Homo sapiens: one gene and its partners. The protein of the gene in region 1 interacts with the protein of each later gene in a biochemical or structural test. Each region holds a gene or a part of one and is shown in the gene's direction. Other genes may lie near its edges. The genes, in order: USP1, BCAT2 and NMRAL1.

Region 1 (2,782 bases):
ACCTCCACCTCCCGGGTTCAAGCGATCCTCCTGCCTCAGCCTCCCGAGTAGCTGTGATTACAGGCATGCACCACCACACCCGGCTAATTTTGTATTTTTACTGGAGACAGGGTTTCTCCATGTTGGTCAGGCTGGTCTTGAACTCCGACCTCAGGTGATCTGCCCGCCTCAGCCTCCCAAAGTCTTGGGATTACAGGCTTAAGCCACTGTGCCCGGCCTACAACTGACTTCTTTTAAAGACAGTAATTTCATAGTCAGTTTTATCTTTACAGGGACCTTAAATTTCATTAATAGGGTACCTCTAATAAGCTAATAATGCTAATAAGCTGATCTATGAAAATGGAACTGTTATTCATGATATACTTTATTTAAATGGAAAATTGGTTATTTGGACTATAATGAGAAACTAATCTGTATAGACTTACATTTTCCTATTTTCATTTTAGGTGAAGAACAAATTGGTTTTGAGCTAGTGGAGAAATTATTTCAAGGTCAGCTGGTATTAAGGACGCGTTGCTTGGAATGTGAAAGTTTAACAGAAAGAAGAGAAGATTTTCAAGACATCAGTGTGCCAGTACAAGAAGATGAGCTTTCCAAAGTAGAGGAGAGTTCTGAAAGTAAGCAAAATTGGAGTCTTGTGTGGACCATGATGGAATATTTATAATTCTTTAACAACACAAAGTTTAATAGTAGCTGGTGTAATTAGGGAGGGGAAAAAAGCTAGCTTTTAGTGTCTAATGTAACCTTTCTGCTTATCTGGCTTCACTTATAAATGGTTAGCATTTGGGAAATTGTGACATCTTGATTTTGATGTAGAGTGTGTTAGAATGGAAAACTGAAATGCTTTAATAAGTGTACTTTTGGGAACCTGAGTCTTTCAGAGCTACTGAGGGTTTTTTTTAATTTTTTTGAGATGGAGTCTTGCTCGGTTGCCCAGGCTGGAGTGCAGTGGCGTGATCTCGGCTCACTGCAAGCTCCGCCTTCTGGGTTCATGCCATTCTCCTGCCTCAGCCTCCTGAGTAGCTGGGACTGCAGGTGCCCACCACCACGCCCGGCTAATTTTTTGTATTTTTAGTAGAGACGGGGTTTCACCATGTTAGCCAGGATGGTCTCAATCTCCTGACCTCGTGATCCGCCCGCCTTGGCCTCCCAAAGTGCTGGGATTACAGGCGTGAGCCACCGCGCCTGGCCTACTGAGGTTGTTTTTAACACAATAATTGAGCCACTGTTGTGTCTAGAGCATACCACAAAATATGGAAATACCATAGGAAATAATCATGAGACAGGTTTACCTATCACATATTGAAAGTTGGCAATTAAATGTAAACAGACTAGGCTTATTTTGTTTTTGCTGTCTATCATATTTTTTGGCCGATCAAATATATTTAAAAGGTATGTATACTGTTGAGGATGCACTTATGAAAGTAGTTTCTGAAAGTAAAAATCTCTTTAGTTATTTAGGAATGGGTCGGTCAATTGAAATTAAATGCTAATTTTGAACCTGAAACTTTGTGGTTTATTTTTTGAATGCCTGAGAGAAGTATTTGAGTGAAAGGATTCTCTTTTTTAGTTTCTCCAGAGCCAAAAACAGAAATGAAGACCCTGAGATGGGCAATTTCACAATTTGCTTCAGTAGAAAGGATTGTAGGAGAAGATAAATATTTCTGTGAAAACTGCCATCATTATACTGAAGCTGAACGAAGTCTTTTGTTTGACAAAATGCCTGAAGTTATAACTATTCATTTGAAGTGCTTTGCTGCTAGTGGTTTGGAGTAAGTATTGTAAATAAGAACTATATGAAGAAAATGAGCTGCTGTAGAAGATAAGTCTTGTTCAAAATGCTGTAATAGTAGGAATATAAAGTACTGAAATGAAGTAGATTGTAAAGATTGCTTCAGTAAAGTTTTGTTCTTATTAACAGTTTCCCTGTAAAAATGAAACAACTTAAATCCTTTTGATATGAATACATATTCTATTAAGTATGATTTCTTCTCCTTTTTTTTTTGAAACAGGGTCTCATTCCAGTTGTCCAGGCTGGAGTGTAGTGGCACAGCCTCAGCTCACTGCAGTCTTGACCTCCCAGGCTCAGGTGGTTCTCCCACCTCAGCCTTCTGAGTAGCTGGGACTACAGGTGCATGCCACCATGCCCAGCTAATTTTTTGTATTTTTAGTAGAGACAGGATTTCACCATGTTGCCCAGTCTGATCTTGAACTTCTGGACTCAAGCAATCCACCTGCCTTAGCCTCACAAAGTGCTGGGATTACAGGCGTGAGCCACCATGCCCGGCCAGTTTCTTTATTCATCTTTTCATATTCATTCCCTCTTAGATGTTAGTAGCAGAATTCAGTAGAACTGACTAAAGCAGGGAACAAATTTTGTATACATCAAGATTTTTTTGAAGGGGCGGGAAAGGCTAAATTCTTCCTAGTTTTAAGGTAAGCCAGGAAATCAAACTAGTCTTTCAACAGTTTGAAAAAAAATGCTGATTGTTTTGGATAGTCTGTTTTTTTCTGACATGTGTAATGTCATTGTATGTGTGACTCCTTTGTACATTAGTTGCTTGTTTGAAATTACCACGAGGGCTTCACAGTAGCTCTCTCACACTTGATTATGTCAAAAGATAACATATAGCCCCTTATTCAGTGGACCTTCCCTTTGCTAATAGTATAAAATACTATTTTATTTACTTTCCCAAATTTTGGTAGAGAAAAACTTCACACTAAAAATGACTAAAATGGGCTGGGCGTGGGTGGCTCACACCTGTAATCCTAGCACTTTGGG
Region 2 (3,654 bases), on another chromosome or scaffold:
TATTTTTTATTTTATTTTTTCTTATTTATTTATTTAGAGACAGAGTCTCACTCTGTCCCCCAGGTTGGAGTGCAATGATACAATCTCGCTCACTGCAACCTCCGCCTCCCGGGTTCAAGTGATTCTCCTGCCTCAGCCTCCCCAGTAGCTGGGATTACAGGCGCCCGCCACCACACCCGGCTAATTTTTGTATTTTTAGTAAAGCCAGGGTTTCACCATGTTGGCCAGGCTGTTTTCGAACTCCTGGCCTCAAGTGATCTGCCCACCTCAGCCTCCCAAAGTGCTGGGATTGCAGGCGTGAGCCACCATGCCTGGCCTTATTTTTTATTATTGTGGTACTAATACGCATACATAATAACACACAGCATCAAATGTGGGATTCCAACCATTTTATTTGTTTGTTTGTTTGTTTATTTATTTATGAGATAGAGTTTCACTCTTGTTGCCCAGGCTGGAGTGCAGTGGCACAATCTTGGCTCACTGCAACCTCTGCCTCCCAGGTTCAAGTGATTCTCCTGCCTCAGCCTCCTGAGTAGCTGGGATTATAGACATGCACCACTATTGGCTAATTTTTGTATATTTAGTAGAGACACGGTTTCACCACGTTGGCCAGGCTGGTCTCAAACTCCCGACCTCAGATGATCCACCGCCTCATCCTCCCAAAGGGCTGGGATTACTGGCGTGAGCCACGGCGCCCAGCCTCCAACCATTTTAAAGCCCATAATTCAGTGGCAGGCAATGTTATGCAACCATCAGCACCATCAAGGTTCAGAACTGTTTAATCCCCCATACCTATTAATCAGTACCCATTGTCCCTCACCCCAGCCCATGACAACCATTAGTCTGCTTTCTGTCTTTGTCTACCTGTATTTGTTTATTTATTATCTTTAAATAATAGGGATGGGGTTTCACCATGTTACCCAGGCTGGTTTTGAACTCCTGAGCTCAAGTGATCCACCTGCTTCGGCCTCCCAAAGTGCTGGGATTACAGGCGTGAGTCACCAAGCCTGGCCACCTGCATTTTTGTTGTTGTTGTTATGACTCTTTTTTTGAGAAAGGGTCTTGCTCTGTAGCCCAGGCTGGAGTGCAGTGGCACGATCTTGGCTCACTGCAGCCTTGACCTCCCAGGCTCCAGCGATCCACCTGCGTCAGCCTTCCAAGTAGCTGGGACTGCAGGTGTGCACCACCATGCCCAGCTAATTTTTATTTTATTTTATTTTTTTTTAGGGATGGGGTCTTGTTATGTTGCCCAGGGTGATCTCAGATTTCTAAGCTCAAGTGATCCTCCTGCCTCAGCCTCCCAAAGTCCTGGGATTGCAGGCATGAGCCACTATATCCGGTGTATCCGGGCTCTTTTACCTGGGTTTTGTTTTGTTTTGTTTTTGAGACGGTGTCTTGCTCTGTTTCCCAGGCTGGAGTGCAGTGGCATGGTCTCAGCTCACTGCAACCTCCGCCTCCTAGGCTCAAGTGATCCTCCTGCCTCTGCCTCCCGAGTGGCTAGGACTACAGGCACACACCACCTTGCCCAGTTAATTTTTAAATCTTGTGCAAAGACAGGATCTCACTTTGTTGCCCAGGCTGGTCTCGAACTCCTGGCTTCAAGCAATTCTCCCACCTTAGCCTCCCAGTTCTGGGGTTACAGGTATGAGCCATCATACTGGGCCTGGAAATTCTTCTCTATACCTTAAAGCTTAAAGAGCTTTTTCCATCTTTCTTGCAGCCTCATGCTGTATCATCCTAACAATGCACCTCCTTAGGCAATCCCCTACTGTTGGACACTTAGGTTGTTTCCAGTCTATTATAAACAATTTTGCAATAAAGAATCTAGTACAGGGCCGGCTGTGATGGCTCACCTGCAATCCCAGCACTTTGGGAGGCTGAGGCAGGTGGGTCACCTGAGGTCAGGAGTTCAAGACCAGCTTTGCCAACATGGTGAAACCCCATCTCTACTAAATATACAAAAATTAGCTGGGTGTGGTGGCGGGTGCCTGTAATCCCAGGTACTCGGGAGGCTGAGGCAGGAGAATTGCTTGAACCCGGGAGGCGGAGGTTGCAGTGAGCCGAGATTGCGCCACTGCACTCCAGCCTGGGTGGCAGAGTGAGACTCCATCTCAAAAAAAAAAAAAAAAAAAAAAAAGGAATCCAGTACACACGTCCCTTCTTTAGTCACTTGTTTAAGTGCAAATGTATCTAGAGGCTCAATTTCGGGAACTGTAGGTCAAAGGATATGTATGCTTGTAATCTTGATACGTATCGCCACATCTACATCTACAGGGTGTGTCAGTTTCCACACCCACCAGCAGAGCCTGTTTCCATACCTTGGACAACCCTTGTCCAAGTTTTAGATCTTTTCCAATCTCCCATGTGGTTTTAAAGGTATCTCAAACTAATTTTAATTTGCATTTTTCTCCCTAGTGATTAATGAAATTGACTATCTTCTCACGAGCTTAAGGGCCACCTGTATTTCCTTTTGTGTGAACTGTCCATTTGCTAGGCTGATTTTTCTATCAGGTTAGGTTTTAAAAAATTCATCTGGGGCTGGGAAGAAGAGGCAGGGGGATTGCTTGAGCTCAGGAGTTCAAGACCAGCCTGGGCAACATAGTAAGACCCTATCTGTACAAGAAATTGGAAAAAAAAAAAAAGTCCAGTCGTGGTGGCTCACGCCTGTAATCCCAGCACTTTGGGAGGCCGAGGTGGGCGCATCACCTGAGGTCAGGAGTTCAAGACCAGCCTGGCCAACGTGGTGAAACCCCGTCTCTACCAAAAACACAAAAATTAGCCGGGCGTGGTTGTAGGCACCTGTAATCCCAGCTACTTGGGAGGTTGAGGCAAAAGAATTGCTTGAACCTGGGAGGTAGAGGTTGCAGTGAGCCAAGATAGAGCACTTCAGCCTGGGCAACAGAGTGAGACTCCATCTCAAATAAAATAAAAAATAAAATTCCCAATCCAAGATATAAAACAGTTATTTTTGTTTCCTTCTATAGCTTTTATGGTGTAATATATATATATATATTTTGTTTAGACTTTTAATGCACCTGGAATTTTTTCTGGTGTGAGGTGTGAAATAGAGATTCAACGTAGTTTTTCTCTAGATGGATATTTGGTTATCTATTCCATTATTCAGTCTGTCCACTCATATAGCAGTGTCACTCTGTTTTAAGTATTGTAGATTTATAATGTTTTACTACCTGATATGGCTACTCCCTGCCCCTGCCCCATCTTGCCCCTCATTTTTGTGGTGGTGGTTTTTATCCCCCCAAAATATTGTAGCTAGTTTTGCTTGTCTTCCATTCATTTATCTATTCATTCATCAAAAACCCACTATGGGAAAAAAAAAAAAAGTCTGGCTGGGTGCAGTGGCTCACCCCTGTAATCCTAGCACTTTGGGAGGCTGAGGCGGGTGGATCAACTAAAAATACAAAAATTAGCTGGGCGTGGTGGTGGGCGCCTGTAATCCCAGCTACCCAGGAGGCCGAGGCACAAGAATCACTTGGACCTGGGAGGCGGAGGTTGCAATCAGCAGAGATCACGCCACTGCACTCCAGCCTGGGTGACAGAGTGAGACCCTGTCTCAAAACAAAACAAAACAAAACAAAACAAAAAAACACTCTGTGCCAAGCGCTGCCTACCCTGGTGCATGGGACTGCAGGAGAG
Region 3 (3,586 bases), on another chromosome or scaffold:
GGGTGTGGCGGCAGGCGCCTGTAGTCCCAGCTACTCGGGAGGCTGAGGCAGGAGAATGGTGTGAACCCGGGAGGTGGAGCTTGTGGTGAGCCAAGATTGCGCCACTGCACTCCAGCCTGGGCGACAGAGCGAGACTCCATCTCAAAAAAAAAAAAAAAAAAAAACCTGCAGTCAGGGATATCTCCTGCTCCGGTCTGTGCGCTCTGTGCCCTCGAGCTCCCAGGTGATCTGAACAGGAAGCTGCACTGGCCCCTGTCTCTAGGTAAGGAGGATAGGACCCAAGCATTCCACAGGCCACACCCAGACAGTTGCCAGCCTCCCCATCTACAAAACCTCAGCCTGGAAGTTTGCGAGTCATTCATTCATTCAGGATTTATGAAGCATTTATCATGGACGTGCTGCTCTAGGCCAGCCGTTGGTGTCTGGTTAATCAGGATTCCTGGTAAGTGAGTTGGTATTTGGAGTATCTACTCAGAGGTGGACGTTCCAGCTTCCAGGAATCTAGGATATGACAGAGTACTTCAGGCTGGTGCCTCCAGATTAGCGGAGACCCTGGGCTCCAGCCACACTCTCTGTAGCAGCTTTCAGAGTCCTTTTCCTTTGTCCCTTCTCTGTCATCCTAGCGCTGAGAGAGCTGGGCAGGCCCAGGTTCTTAGCCCCATTCTAGGAATGCAGCAACCCAGGCTCAGAGAGCCTCAACAGCCTGCCCTAGGTGGCAGTACCCGGATTCCATCCCGTTTCCTGACTCAATTCCACTGCTGCCTCTGTGCTACCACAAATAGCAAGACTTGTCTTAGCTATGCCCGAGTGCTGGAGTGTGCAGCTGACTGCTGGGAAGAACCAGCTTGGACCCTTTGGAGAGGGGCTCTGTCCCTGCCCCTGTCTGCCCTCGGGACATATACCAGCTCACGTCTCTGCCCCACAGGCTTGCCCACAGGTGACGTTCCCATGGATGGCATGTCCGTGTCTGACCTGGGTCCTGTGGTGCTCAGCCTTTTGAAGATGCCAGAAAAATACGTCGGCCAGAACATCGGGCTGAGCACTTGCAGGCACACGGCCGAGGAGTACGCTGCCCTGCTCACCAAGCACACCCGCAAGGTCGTGCACGATGCCAAGGTGGGCCTCCCGCCCCAGGTGACTCAGGCATCCTTGTCAGGGCTTTCTAGCTCCCGTAGGGAGGGTGTGTCCAGGGCTGCCCACACCTCTGGGCAGTACATCTAAATTCATTCGTTCATCGTCAACGTTTATTTTCTGCTGTTCCAGGAGCTAACTGGCCACAGAGTGAAATTTCTGGCTTAGATGTTTTGACCAAATAGAGAGAAAAGCTTCCAGGAGGAGAGGGCCATAGGAGCCAAGGCAAGGAGGGGTGAAAATGCAGGCCCTGCCGGGCTCCTCTGTGGGAGGGAATTTGAAGAGAAAAGAGTCTGGAAAGATAGACCCGACCCCTCCCCTGTGGGAGGGGATTTAAAGGGAAAGAGGCTAGAAAGATAGGGCCGACCCCTGCCCCCATTGGCCTGGCTGGGTGGGCAGGAGGCCTACTGGACAGACTCTTGGGTACCTGGTTTCTAATGTTTGTCATTACCATTAGGAAAGTAAGACATACTCATTAAAGAATCTGGGAGGCTGGGTGCAGTAGCTCACGCCTGTAATCCCAGCACTTTGGGAGGCCGAGGCAGGTGGATCACCTGAGGTCAGGAGTTTGAGACCAGCCTGGCCAACAGGGTGAAACCCCATCTCTACTAAAAATAAACAAATTAGCCGGGTGTGGTGGCAGGCGCCTGTAATCCCAGCTACTTGGGAGGCTGAGGCAAGAGAATCGCTTGAACTCAGGAGGCAGAGTTTGCAGCGAGCCGAGATGCCACTGCACTCCAGACTGGGCGACAGAGCGAGACTCCAACTCCAAAAAAAAAAAAGAATCTGGGAAACACTGGAGTCCTTAAAAGACGAAAGTTGGGTCAGGCGCGGTAGCTCACACCTGTAATCCTAGCACTTTGGGAGGCTGAGGCGGGCAATTACAAGGTCAGGAAATCGAGACCATCCTGACTAACACGGTGAAACCCCGTCTCTACTAAAAATACAAAAAATTAGCCCGGCGTGGTGGGCCTAACTCCTGGGCTCAAGCGATCCTCCCACCTCCACCTCCCAAAGTGCTGGGATGACAGGTGTGAGCCACTGTGTCTGGTCAAGCTTTGGTTTTTGAGAAAGAAAGTGATGCAGGCAGGTCTCTGATTTGGAAGGGACTGAGATATTTTCGTCTCATGATCTGAAAATAATAGTCTTTTTATTTATTCATTTTTGAGACAGGGTCTCACTCTTGTTGCCCAGGCTGGAGTACAGTGGGGTGATCTCAGCTCACTGCAACCTCCACCTCCTGGTTTCAAGCGATTCTCCTGTCTCAGCCTCCTAAGTAGCTGGGATTACACGCACCTACCACCAGGCTGGCTAATTTTTGTATTTTTGAAAGAGACGGGGTTTTATCGTGTTGGCCACGCTGGTCTCGAACTCCTGGCCTCAAGAGATTTGCCTGCCTCAGCCTCCCAAAGTGCAGGGATTACGGGCATGAGCCACAGCATCTGGCCAAGAACAATCTTTAAACTGATCTACAATGTCAGGCAGCTCAGGAGAGCAGCAGTTTCTGAACTTTCGGCTCTTAGAAGTTTTCAAATGACCTTGTACGGAGGACCTGGGTCAGGGACCGAGACAATAGTGGCTCTGGGTGTAGCAGGTCGGGAGACCCCAGCCCATCCGGCCTCCCTGCCCCGCCACCTCCCGGGGCACTGGAGGACGCCGGCCACGACAGGCTCCTCTGCTTCCAGATGACTCCTGAGGACTACGAAAAGCTTGGCTTTCCCGGTGCCCGGGACCTGGCCAACATGTTCCGTTTCTATGCCCTGAGACCCGACCGTGACATCGAGCTGACCCTGAGACTCAACCCCAAGGCCCTGACGCTGGACCAGTGGCTGGAACAGCACAAAGGGGACTTCAACCTGCTGTGACCTGCCCGCCTCGCGGCCCCTTGTGGGGATCGGGGGCACCAGAGGGGCAGAGGCACCAACATCTGAATAAAGCCATTGTTCTCCCAGATGGCTTCCAGGAGAAGAGGACTCTGCTTCCAGGACTTGGGTTGGGGTGGTAGTTGTGTACCAACACAACAGTAAGTGGTTGGGGAGGGTCCGGGGCTGTACCAACACAGCAGTAAGTTGGAGCGGGGGGGGGGGGTCCAGGGCTGTACCAACACAGCAGTAAGTGAGGGGACCCGGGGTTGTACCAACACAGCAGTAAGGGGTGGCTCCAGGGCTGTACCAACACAGCAGTAAGGGAGGGTCCAAGGCTGAAGGGATCACTTGGTGACTGGGACGAGTGACCTAAACGTGTTTAGTCAGACAGGTGTGAAGTGGCCTGTTCTGACCTCAGCTAGCAGAACAGCTCTGACCAGCAGCCTCTGTTCCCACATTTGAAATTCATTCACAGACGGGGACATAGCACAGGACACAGAGGAGCCCCAGGAGCCGAGCTTCTGACACACCCCTTTCATCTCCAGAGCTAGTGAGGCCATCTGCACATGTGAACTGGAGACAGGCTCTGC

What was found.
Region 2: the proteins of USP1 (region 1) and BCAT2 form a complex in vitro, tested with the Homo sapiens proteins (one study listed by BioGRID).
Region 3: the proteins of USP1 (region 1) and NMRAL1 form a complex in vitro, tested with the Homo sapiens proteins (one study listed by BioGRID).

The regions. Positions count from the first base shown.
Region 1 is NC_000001.11:62,446,895-62,449,676, forward strand, and holds part of USP1 (ubiquitin carboxyl-terminal hydrolase 1), read left to right. Parts: intron 1-446; coding exon 447-617; intron 618-1,570; coding exon 1,571-1,772; intron 1,773-2,782. UniProt on the Homo sapiens protein: Negative regulator of DNA damage repair which specifically deubiquitinates monoubiquitinated FANCD2. Also involved in PCNA-mediated translesion synthesis (TLS) by deubiquitinating monoubiquitinated PCNA.
Region 2 is NC_000019.10:48,800,925-48,804,578, reverse strand, and holds part of BCAT2 (branched-chain-amino-acid aminotransferase, mitochondrial isoform a precursor), read left to right. Parts: intron 1-3,654. UniProt on the Homo sapiens protein: Catalyzes the first reaction in the catabolism of the essential branched chain amino acids leucine, isoleucine, and valine. May also function as a transporter of branched chain alpha-keto acids.
Region 3 is NC_000016.10:4,461,190-4,464,775, reverse strand, and holds the end of NMRAL1 (nmrA-like family domain-containing protein 1), read left to right. Parts: intron 1-925; coding exon 926-1,116; coding exon of another isoform or gene 1,117-1,134; intron 1,135-1,263; coding exon of another isoform or gene 1,264-1,299; exon of another isoform or gene 1,300-1,356; intron 1,357-2,816; coding exon 2,817-2,996; 3' UTR 2,997-3,082; downstream 3,083-3,586. UniProt on the Homo sapiens protein: Redox sensor protein. Undergoes restructuring and subcellular redistribution in response to changes in intracellular NADPH/NADP(+) levels.